3 separate regions of the Homo sapiens genome follow, and all the other regions are linked to region 1. Evidence: fine-mapped expression QTL. A gene starts in region 1. Each other region holds a variant in brackets. All regions are shown on one strand. Distances are between the middles of the regions.

The links. PIP is the estimated chance that this variant, and not a neighbour inherited with it, causes the effect.
Region 2: its variant is the best candidate, but not a certain one, in a credible set for the expression of RALGAPA1 in stomach (GTEx, PIP 0.72).
Region 3: its variant is the best candidate, but not a certain one, in a credible set for the expression of RALGAPA1 in gastroesophageal junction (GTEx, PIP 0.83).

What each region holds. Positions count from the first base shown.
Region 1 is chr14:35,807,091-35,811,194 of GRCh38, forward strand. RALGAPA1 (Ral GTPase activating protein catalytic subunit alpha 1) reads right to left here and starts at 2,205. Exons shown (of 42, transcript NM_001346249.2): 1 at 1,640-2,205. The coding sequence starts at 1,745. RefSeq lists enhancers at 1,855-2,415, 2,252-2,351 and a silencer at 1,932-2,171.
Region 2 is chr14:35,636,906-35,641,009 of GRCh38, forward strand. All of the region lies in intron 31 of RALGAPA1 (Ral GTPase activating protein catalytic subunit alpha 1), which reads right to left. Among named protein-coding and RNA genes, the nearest start is that of INSM2, 100 kb to the left of the region's middle. The variant AAG/A (reference allele first, on the strand shown) is at 2,092.
Region 3 is chr14:35,642,428-35,646,531 of GRCh38, forward strand. All of the region lies in intron 31 of RALGAPA1 (Ral GTPase activating protein catalytic subunit alpha 1), which reads right to left. Among named protein-coding and RNA genes, the nearest start is that of INSM2, 110 kb to the left of the region's middle. The variant G/A (reference allele first, on the strand shown) is at 2,394.

The DNA of each region.
Region 1 (4,104 bases):
ATAAATAAAGTATGGCCTTTAATTTAGGAAATCTCGATACTTTATTGGAACTCAACTTTATAGCTGTGTCATTACCTAACCTACAGCTTATCCCAAGTAGGTGTCAAGCTCCATTAAGTGTTCAATTTCAAACTGCCATTACCTGTGAATCCCTCGCCTGCATTCACACATTAACTTACTGTGTCCTATTCTCGGCTAAATCTTTATTTCAATGGCTTAACTCTCAAGAAGAATGAAAACAAAAAGATCACAATCTCCACTATATTTAGAAGCTTTACATTTTCTTGAAAACTGAGCTTTTTATAGCGCTAAACTGGATTAACTGCTTTCTTACTACTCCACTGGAATAAATACAATTTACTTGTGACAAAGATTAGCTGTCATAAATGTAGAAAGAGTAAAAAAACAAACTAGAGACACAAAATCTGGGTTCCAATTCTGACTCAGCCTCCTGGTAGCTGGCTGACTACTCGATGTTCCCAAACTTCAGCTTTTTTGTTGGTAAAAAATGGAGAATAATATCATCTACCTATAGAGTTATTGCAAGGATTATCATAATTTACGTGAAATCACTGTAAACAGTAAAGCATCATAGAAATGTTGGGTAATATTGGTGGTATCCTGGTGGTATGAGTAAACAATAGACTAGAGAAACATGTACCTCAAATAAGGGACTTACTTTTTTCACTAAATAAACATCACTTTCCAAAACAAATACGCATCAGGAGGACAGCTCGAGATAAACTCTGAACTAGGATTCAGGCATCTGGATGAATGCATCTTCTTCAGCCAGTTCCACCATTAACTCTAAGTATCAACACAGGCGAAATAATTTTCCTTTTCATCTCAAATGTCTTCATCTAAAAAATCCAACTACTGGACCAGATGTTCCATAAGTATTATTACAGCCTTTATCAGCCTACCAAATGACTAAGTATTCAAAAGAGTCGATTAACATTATATTCAAAACTTAGAGCACTGTTTGGTCTACCAGCAAAACAGAACTTAAGGGCAGACGATAAAAAAAATATTTTTAATTAAAAATAGAATTATATACAATTCTCGAGAAGCAAAGGATGAGTTAAACTACCTATAATAGTTCTCCCTCTAAATGACTAGTGATGAACAAGGTGCATTAACAAAAGGGCGGGGCTCCTTCCCACAGCTTTTTGGGAACCGCCCACTTCCCAAAGAGGTGTAACTGCTACCTCCTTGTCTTCATCTGCCAAGAAACTTGAAAGATTAAGGTTTATATTGTCTGAGAGAGGATTTTATTTTTCTTTTTACTTGGGTGGGGTTGGCAGTAGTCATCTGGCAAACATATCCTATAAACACCATTATCCACAACGCCAGGTCTCCCCACAAAGTCTTAAAGATCTAAGTTTTTAGAGTAATACCAATTTTAAAAAATAAGTTCAGACTATTAACTCAAAATTAGATTACTGTGTTAACAGTAATCAGTGCTGCCAACTGCCAAGTTTTCGCTTCTCCGAATTATTCACCCTCCCGCGTCTCCGCAGAGGCTACGATTTGCCCTCTCCTGCACCGCGCCAGGTCCCGAGAGAGAGTCCGCAGGGGCTCCCAGGAGAGGGAAGGCCGGGCAACCCAGGCCTCGGCGCTGCCACCCCTCGCTCCTCACCGATGACGATGCGCAGGTGCTTGAGGCGAGTCAGTGCGTCCTTCTTGGTGTCTAGCACCTTCTGGGTGGACTTCTTCACGTCCCCGTGCGGCTTCTTGGAGAACATCCTGTCGCTGCCACTGCCACTGCCACTGCCACAGCCGGCTCCCAGCCGGGTCCCGGCGGCAGAAAGTGGAGGGAGTGGACGGGGAGGAGACTAGCCAGAGAGGCTCATTAGCTCCCCAGCCTTGCGGGCCAGGGCAGAGCCGACTCCTTCCCGATCCAGGCCAGGGCCGCCACCTCCACCCGCCTCGCGCCGCGGCTCCAAGGCACCTTCGGCCCCAGCTCCAATATGGCGGATCCCTCTCCCGGCCCTGCACGGAGCGAGGCAGACCCGGGCTGGCCGCCTGCCGCCGCCGCTCGTCTCCAGCGGCCGCCGCTCGCCGCCACAGGCCGGGGCCCCGGACCCAGAGCCACGAAGGTGGAGCTCTCGGCGGCAGGAGCACAACTCTCTCCCTGAGGCCCCCTTAAGGTTGAAGCTTCTTTAGCAGCTTACACCCTGCAGAGGCCGAAACGGAGACGAGTGTGGTAGTGATGGGGTTTCACGACTCTGCCGTCGGTGGCGAACGGTGTCCGTGGCAACCGCCTTCTGACGTCAAGAGTTCTTGACGTCATGCCAGCATGAGATCACCCGTGGCACTCCCCGCCTTGGTTTCCTGTGTAAGCAGCCAAAGGAGAATCTCAAGAAAGGCAAGGAAGGTAGTTACTGCGTGCTCCATTGTAAGCCAAATGATAGTAATAAGCAAAGAGAAGTAATCTTTATTAAATATGTCCATGATTTATCTTTGAAAATGTGCATAAGTTGTTGTGGCCACCAGATCCTCTAGCAGAAAGATAAACGAAGTTACAGTTGGGCAATTTATTCTGTCCTAAATCTATTACTAATAATATTTCCTGCACTATGTATGTGATTTCTTTCATATTTTTTCTATTTGCAATATCCCTGTTTTTTGCTGCAAACAACTTGACAACAGAAAGGCTTAAGCAGAGGTATCTAGGTTTTTTAAATAAAAGTAATCTTGCTTTCCTTTTCTATTGTGCTTTTAAAAATCTTTTCCCCATCTGCACCCCACATAAAGATGAATATATTGTCAGTTTTTCCTCTGCAAAGAAGAATTCAAGGTTCTTATTACATTGATGGAGTCATCTGAAGAATCTGCAATAGCTGAAAAAAATCCGTGAAATTCTGAATGACATAAATTGAAATTTTTATTGGAACCCTTTTTTTTTTTTTCCTTTTTCCTTTTCTTTCCAGACAGGGTCTCTGTGTCCCAGGCAGAAGTGCAGTGGTGTGATCTCAGCTCACTGAAGCCTCGAACTCCCAGGCTCAGGTGATGCTCCCACCTCAGCCTACCGAGTAGCTGGGACCACAGGTGCGCGCCACCACATCCAGCTAATTTTTGTGTTTTTTGTAGAGACGGGGTTTCGCCATTTTGCCCAAACTGGTCTAAAACTCCTAGACTCAAGTGATCCGCCCGCCTCAGCCTACCAAACTGCTGGGATTACAGGCGTGAGGCCACTGCGCCTGGCCAGGAACATTTCCTCCACAAAATAATTTGATAAAGAGTGAGTTTGCTTGTTTGAACTGTTTCCTTCTATGTTCTCACCCATAGCAATAGACTTGTCCAATGAAATATGTGATTAACATAGAAAAATAACAAAATCAGCAAAGAAGAGAGATGTAAGACATTTGCCAAAATTATGTTAAAATATAGTGCTTTGCTTAATGGTAGTTTGTTTCAACAACAATCCTATATTTTTTAAAGTACAAAAAATTTATTCAGTTTCTACATGTAGGGTTTGTTTGTATCATCAAACTTACAAGCCATACATGTTTTGAGGAAGCTTATAACATAATAGAAAAATAAGGGGATTGTTCAAGAGATTTTAGTTCTAGTTCCTCTCAGCATCAGTTTTCTTATTAATAAAATCAAAATAAGGTCTGTCCCTCACAGTTTCGTGAAATTTAGGCAATAATACAATGTTTTCAAGCATGATCTTTAGAATTACATAGACCTAAATTAGACATTCTGTTTTTCACTTGCAAGGACTTACTTGCTCTCGGGCCCTTGGCATGTAGTTCAGTCTCAGCCTGATTTTCCTCATTTGTAAACTACATCAGTGATTGTGATAATTAGGTGAGAAAAGTATTGAAAGTTACATCTATAATGACACATCTCATAACATTCCTTTCCTTCATAGAATTTAAATACAGTAATTTGTGTAACTGTTTACAGATTCTCTCTTTCATGAGACTGTAAACTCCCTGAGGACAGAGACTGTATAGATTGTCTAAAGTTGTATCCCAGTCTTCTTGCAAAGTGCTCTTTGCAAGATAGGCTCAATAAATCTGTGTCGAATAGAAGAACGAATGTCACTGTCCCTTCCTTTCTCTTGCGCAAGTACTCAGTAAATGTTTGGCAAAT
Region 2 (4,104 bases), 170 kb before region 1:
GGGTAGTTTGGGAAAAACTGTGAAAGAGAGAAGATGGGAACTTGCTGTGAATCTAAGACTGATCTAAAACCATGCCAGAAAGAAAAAGTCCACCTTAAGTGTGAGAATATTAAAAAAGTATACTGGTAGATCAGAGTAGTGAGTAAAAAGAAAGGATGTAGAAGTACACATAGGAAAGGTAATGCTTAGGGGGAGAAGACAAACAAACCCAGACTGCGAAGACTATGATAAATACCTAACTCTTCAATGCCCACACACCAATGAACATCAACAAACATCAAGACCATCCAGGAAAACATGACCTCACCAAATGAATTAAATAAGGCACCAATGACCAATCCCAGAGAGACAGAGATGTCACCTGACAGAGAATTCAAAACAGCTGTTTTGAAGAAGCTCAATGAAATTCAAGATAACACAGAGAAGAAATTCAGAATCCTATGAGATAAATTTAACAAAGAGATTGAAATAACTAAAAAGAACCAAGTAGAAATTCTGGAGCTGAAAAATGCAACTAGTGTACTGAAGAATGCATCAGAGTTCTTTTAATGGCAGAACGGATAATGCAGAAAAAAGAATTGGTGAGGCTGAAGACAAGCTATTTGAAAATACACAGTCAGAGGCGACAAAAGAAAAAAGAAGAAAAAAGAATAAAACACACCTATAAGAACTAGAAAAGAGCATCAAAAGGGTAAATCTAGAGTTATTGGCTTTAAAGAGGAGATAGATTGGGATATAAAGTTTATTAAGAAGGATAAAAACATAGAACTTCCCAAACCCAGAGAAAGATATGAACACTCAAGTACAAGTAGGTTATAGAACACTAAGCAGATTTTATCCAAATATGACTACCTTAAGACATTTAATAATCAAACTCTCAAAGGTCAAGGATAAAAGGATTATAAAAGCAGCAAGATAAAAGAAACAAATAACATACAATGGAGCTCCAATACATTTGGAAGCAGACTTCTCAGTAGAAATCTTACAGGCCAGGAGAGAATGGCATGACATATTTAAAGTGCTAAAGGAAAAAAAACTTATTCTAAAATAATATATCCAGTGAAAATATCCTTCGAACATGGAGAAGAAATACAGACTTTCCCAGACAAACAAAAGCTGAGGGATTTCATCAACACCAAATCTGTCCCACAAGAAATGCTAAAGGGATTTCTTCAGTCTGAAAGAAAAGAATGTTAATGAGCAGTAAGAAATTATCTGAAGGTCCAAAACTCACTGGTGATAGTAAGTAAACAGAAAACCACAGAATACTATAACGCTGTAATTGTGGTGTGTAAACTACTCATATTGAAGTAGAAAGATGAAAAGATGAACCAATAAAAAATAATAACAACAACTTTTCAAGACATGGACAGTACAATAAGATATAAATAGAAAGAATAAAAAGTTAAAAAGCAGGGGGATTAAGTTAATATGTAGAGTTGTTATTAATTTTCTTTTTGCTTGTTGTTTATGCAGTCAGTGTCAAGTTGGCATTAGTTTAAAATAATGGGTTATAAGATATTACTTGCAAGCCTTATGGTAACCTCCAATATAAACACATACAATGGATATAAAAAAAATAAAAAGCAAGAAACAAAACCATAATACCAGAGAAAATCACCTTCACTAAAAGGAAAACAGGAAGGAAGGAAAGAAGGATGAGAAGCCTGAAAAACAACAAGAAAATAAATAATAAAGTGGAAGGAGTAAGTACCTACTTATCAATAATACCACTGAGGCTGGGCACGGCGGCTCACACCTGTAATCCCAACACTCTGGGAGGCTGAGGTAAGCAGATCACCTGAGGTCACGAGTTTGAGACCAGCCTGGCCTGCATGGTGAAATCCTATCTCTACTAAAAAACCAAAAAATTAGCTGGGTGTGGTGGTGTGTGCTTGTAGTCCCAGCTAGTTGGAAGGCTGAGGCAGGTGAATCGTTTGAACCCAGGAGGTAGAGGTTGCAGTGAGCTGAGATTGCGCCGCTGCACTCCAGCCTGGGTGACAGAGCAAGACTCTGTCTCAAAAAGAAAGAAAGAAAAAAAAAGAATAAAAAATAAAAACCACTGAATGTAAATAGACTAAACTCAATCAA[AAG/A]AGAGAGTGGCTGAACAGATTAAAAAAATAAAACCCAACGATCTGTTGCCTACAAGAAACACACTTTGCCTATAAAGACACACATATAGTGAAAATAAAGGGATGAAGATGTTCTATGCAAATGGAAACCAAAAAAAGCAGAAGTAGTTACACTTGCATCAGACAAAATAGATTTCAAGACAAAAAAGGTCATTATGTGATGATAAAGGGATTAATTCAGCAAGAGGATAAAACAATTATAAATATATATGCACTCAACACTGGAGCACCCTGATATATAAAGCAAATATTATTAGAGCTAAAGAGAGAGATATATGCCAATACAATAATAGCTGAAGACTTAAACACCACACTTTCAGCATTGGACATTTCATCCAGACAGAAAATCAACAGAGACATTGGACTTAATGTGCAGTATGGACCAAATGGATATTTACAGAACATTTCATCCAATGGCTGTGGAATGCACATTTTTCTCCTCAGCATCTGTAACATTCTAAAGGACAGACCATATGTTAGGCCAAAAAATAAGTCTTAACATATTTTTAAAAATTGAAATAATATTAAGTATCTTCTCTGACCCCAATGGAATAAAACTAGAAATAAAAAATAAGAGGAATTTTGGAAACTATACAAACACTTAGGAATTAAACAATATTGGCCAGGTGCGGTGGCTCGTGCCTGTAATCCCAGCACTTTCGGAGGCCGAGGTGGGCGGATCATGAGGTCAGGAGATTGAGACCATCCTGGCTAAGACGGTGAAACCCCGTCTCTACTAAAAATACAAAAAATTAGTCGGGCGTGGTGGCGGGCACCTGTAGTCCCAGCTACTCGGGAGGCTGAGGCAGGAGAATGGTGTGAACCTGGGAGGCAGAGCTTGCAGTGAGTCAAGATTGCACCACTGCAGTTCAGCCTGGGCGAGAGGCTGAGACTCTGTCTCAAAAGAAAAAAAAAAAAAAGAAATTAAACAATATCTTCCTGAATGATCTGTGGGTCAATGAAGAGATTAAGAAAAAAACTGAAAGTTTCTGGAAACAAATGATAATGGAAACACAACATACCCAAACCTATAGGATACAGTGAAAGCAGTACTAAGAGGGAAGTTTATAGCTATAAGCACCTACATCAAAAAAGCAGAAAAACGTCAAGTAAACAACCTAACAATGCATCTTAAAGAACCAGAAAAGCAAGAGCAAACCAAACCCAAAGTAAGCAGAATAAAAATAATAAAGATCAGAGCAGAAATGAATAAAACTGAAATGGCAAAAATACAAAAGATCAATGAAATGAAAAATTGGCACATGAAACAAAAAATTGATTTTTTAAAAAAGATAAAATTGACAAACCTTTGGCCACTAAGAAAAAAAGAAACAAGACTCAAATAAAATCAGAAATGAAAGAGGAGACATTAAAAACCGATACAGCAGAAATTAAAAGATCAACAGAGCGGCTACTATGAACAACTATATGCCAATAAACTGGAAAACCTAGAAGAAACGGATAAACTCCTAGACACATAAAATCTATTAAGATTTAATCATGAAGAAATGCAAAACCTGAACAGACCAGTAACATATAACAAGAATAAAGCTGTAATAAAAAGTCTGTCACCAAAGAAAGGCCCAGGACCCAATGGCTTCATTGCTAAATTCTACCAAACATTTAAAGAACTAATACCAATCCTTCTGAAACTATTCTGAAAAACAGAGGAGGAAGTATTTCCAAACTCATTCTATGAGGCCAATATTACCCTAATATCAAAATAAAAGACATCAACAAAAAGAAAACTACAGGCCAATATTCCTGATGAACATTGATGCAAAAATCCTCGACAAAATACTAGCAAACCAAATTCAACAATGCATTAGAAATATCACTCACCATGACCAAGGGAGATTTATCCCAGGGATTCAAGGATGATTCAACATACACAAATCAATCAATGTGATACATTTTTGTCAACAAAATAAAGGACAAAAACCTTTGTGATAATTTCAGTTGCTGCTGAAAA
Region 3 (4,104 bases), 160 kb before region 1:
GAAGATCTGAACAGACATTTCTCAAAAGAAGACATAAAAAAGGAAAACAAGTTAATATGTTCATATGACTATATGAAAACAAGTTCATATGAACACATATGAACTTATGAAAAGATGCTCAACATCATCAGAGAAATGCAAATCAAAACTACTAAATACAATGAGATATCATCTCACCTCAGTTAAAACGGGTTTTATCCCACAATGAGATACCATCTCACACCAGTTAGAATGGTGATCATTAAAAAGTCAGGAAACAACAGGTGCTGGAGAGGATGTGGAGAAACAGGAACACTTTTACATGGTTGGAGTGTAAACTAGTTCAACCATTGTGGAAGACAGTGTGGCAATTCCTCAAGGATCTAGAACTAGAAATACCATTTGACCCAGCCATCTAATTACTGGGTATATACCCAAAGGATTATAAGTCATGCTGCTATAAGGACATATGCACGTGTATGTTTACTGTGGCACTATTCACGATAGCAAAGACTTGGAACCAACTCAAGTGTCCATCAATGATAGACTAGATTAAGAAAATGTGGCAAATATACACCATGGAATACTATGCAGCCATAAAAAGGATGAGTTCATGTCCTTTGTAGGGACATGGATAAAGCTGGAAACCATCATTCTGAGCAAACTGTCGCAAGGACAGAAAACCAAACACCGCAAGTTCTCATTCATAGGTGGGAATTGAACAATGAGAACACTTAGACACAGGATGGGAAACATCACACACCAGGGCCTTTCGAGGGGTGGGGGGAGGCGGGAGGGATAGCATTAGGAAATATACCTAATGTAAATGACGAGTTAATGGGTGCAGCACACTAACATGGCACATGTATACATATGTAACAAACCTGCACATTGTGCACATGTACCCTAGAACTTAAAGTATAATAATAATAATAAAATAAATAAAATAAAATGGGTTTATCCAAAAGACAGGCAATAAATGCTGGCGAGGATGTGGAGAAAAGGGAACCCTCATACACTGTTGGTGGGAATTTATGTTAGTACAACCACTATGGAGAACAGTTTCGAGGTTCCTCAAAAAACTAACAAAGATAACTACTATATGATCCAGTAATCCTACTGCTAGGTATATACCCAAATGAAAGGAAATCAGCATATCTAAGAGATACCTACATTCCCATGTTTACTGCAGTATTATTTACAATAGCCAAAATTTGGGACCAACCTAAGTGTCCATCAACAGATGAATGGATAAAGAAAAGTGGTACATATATGCAAGGGAGTACTATTCAGCCATAAAGAAGAATGAGATCTTGTCATTTGCAACAAGATAGATGGAACTGGAAGTCATTATGTTAAGTGAAATAAGCCAGGCACAGAAAGACAAACATTGCATGCTCTCACTTATCTGTGGGAGATAAATATGAAAACAACTGAACTCATGGAGACAGAGAATAGAATGATGGTTACCAGAGACTGGGAAGGGCAGTGGGGAGTATGGGGTAAGTGGGGATGGTTAATGGGTTCTAAAAAATAGAAAGAATGAATAAAATATAATATTTGCTAGCAAAACAGAGTGACTATAGTAAAAAATAACTGAATTGTACATTTAAAAATAACTAAAAACATATAATTGGATTATTTTGTAACACACAGAAAGGATAAGTGCTTGAGGGGAAGGATACCCCATTTATCCTGACATATTATGCACTGTATGTCTCTGTCAAAATATCCCATGCACTCCATAAATATATACACCTACTATGTACCCAGAACAATTTTCAATAAATAAAAAGATGGGGAAGATCTCTATGAACTTACGTATTAAGGATTTCCAAGATACACTGTCAAGTGAAAAATCCAAAGCAAAGACTATCTAGGCTATGTGTAACAAACAAGGAATAAAAGACGATATACATGCATCTGTTCATTTGTGAAAAAACAATCATAGGATGGATGAACCATAGACTAAAAAAATTAAAACAACAGAGATGGGACAAAGACCCTAAAACTGCATACAAACAGAAAAAAGTGACCTGAACTGAATTTCAAGGTAATTATATAACCATACTGAAGTGGGAAAGGGGGACTACGAAGTAACCCAAATAACTTATGAACACATTTTTCAAACAATAATCTCTCTTGGTAAAGACAAGCACTCTTAACTATAAAGAGGCATAAGTTAATAATTTAAAAAAATAGAACAGCACAAAGAAGTAAACATATCCAGATAAATAATCAATATGGAAACCAGATTTTTCATTGCTGGAGCAGGGAGTTACAAATAAGGAAAACGGGGAAGGATGGACTGAATCTCGTGGTGTTGGATTAGACGTGGAGGTGTCAGACTGGGGCCTGTTGGTGGGGGAAGGTGAGGGAGAGCATCAGGACAAACAGCTAATGCATGTGGTGAC[G/A]GGTTGACAGGTGCAGCAAAACACCATGGCACTTGTCTACCCATGTAACAAACCTGCACATTCTGCACATGTATCCTGGAACTTAAAGTAAAATAAAATAAAATAAGAATTGGAGGTGTCAGTGTGAACTCAAGGTTTTTAATACTTATAATTAGATACCATCTTATTCTGTCTGTGCTGGCATTACAAATACTTTACACTGGGTGGCTTAAACAAGAGAAATTTATTCCTCACAGTTCTGAAAGCTAGAAAGTTGAAGATCAAGGTGGCAGCCAATTCAGTATATGTGAGGGTCCTCTTTCTGGCTTGTTAGATGACCACCTTCTAGTGTATCTTCACACGGTGGATATTAGTTCATCTCTCTTCTTATAAGGGCACTAATCCCATTGATGAGGGCTTCATCCTCACGACCTAATTACCTCTCAAAGGCCCCACCTCCAAATCCCATGACACTGGGCATTAGGATTTCCATATATGAACTTCGGGAGAGACACAAACATTCAGTCTATAGCAGATATAGAGATGGGTGTGTGTGTGTGTGTGTGTGTGTGTGTGTGTGTGTGTGTGTGTATATGTTATGTATTTCCTAGCTGTATCTGCCAAAGAGGACTTAAGAAACGATACCCCAGGCCGGGCGCAATGGCTCACGCCTGTAATCCCACCACTTTGGGAGGCTGAGACAGGCAGATCACGAGGTCAGGAGATCGAGACCATCCTGGCTAACACGGTGAAACCCCGTCTCTACTAAAAATACAAAAAAATTAGCCAGGCGTGGTGGCGGGCGCCTGTAGTCCCAGCTACTCGGGAGGCTGGGCAGGAGAATGGCGTGAACCCGGGAGGCGGAGCTTGCAGTGAGCCGAGATCGCGCCGGGGCACTCCAGCCTGGGCGACAGAGCGAGACTCCATCTCCAAAAAAAAAAAAAAAAAAGATATCCCAGTAGCAATGTGCATGCCTAGTTCTTAGATACTGATTTCTAAACACCATTTGCCACTTAACGGAAGCAGGGTTTCTTGGAGAAATGGGTAATTTCAGGGCTGGGACAGGGAAAGCACAAAGTGAGTCTGGAAAATTGTGTGCTGACAGAAATTAAAAGCATGCCCCCAAAATAATGGGGATTTATGAAAAAGAAGCCACTTTGAAGGGGCTCCCACTGGCTAAGTATGAGACATTTTGAGCACCAAAATAAATAATAGTTAAGGATTACAAATCATTGCATAAAATCAGAATCATGAGCCCACATTGAAATAAGATGAATAAGAAAGAAAGGAAAGCTCTTCCTTATACGTAGAAAGCTAACTAATGAATGTAGAAAAAATGATGAATTAGGAAATCATCATTTGGCAGCTACTGTAACAATAATTGTTTCTGGTAAGAGTCATTAATGATTAGCAAAACCAGTTAGTGGAAATTTAAGGAGTCAAATATTTATATAGTATAGTCTCAAAGTATTGTCTTACAAATACTAATTCATTGAAAAGGATTAAACAGTAGCTTTACAGTGGGAACACCTGGCAGACACAACCTTAATCATTTGACTGAAGTTAGCACCAATCAGTAATGAAACAAACTGACATCTGTGACACCTGATATAATGTATTAAGAGGTGCACAAAATCTTCTGAGGTATTCCTGCCAAATACGCCTAATTTAAATCCAATAATAACAAACCTAATCATGATGAAACACAAAGCCAAAACGCAGGACATTTTAT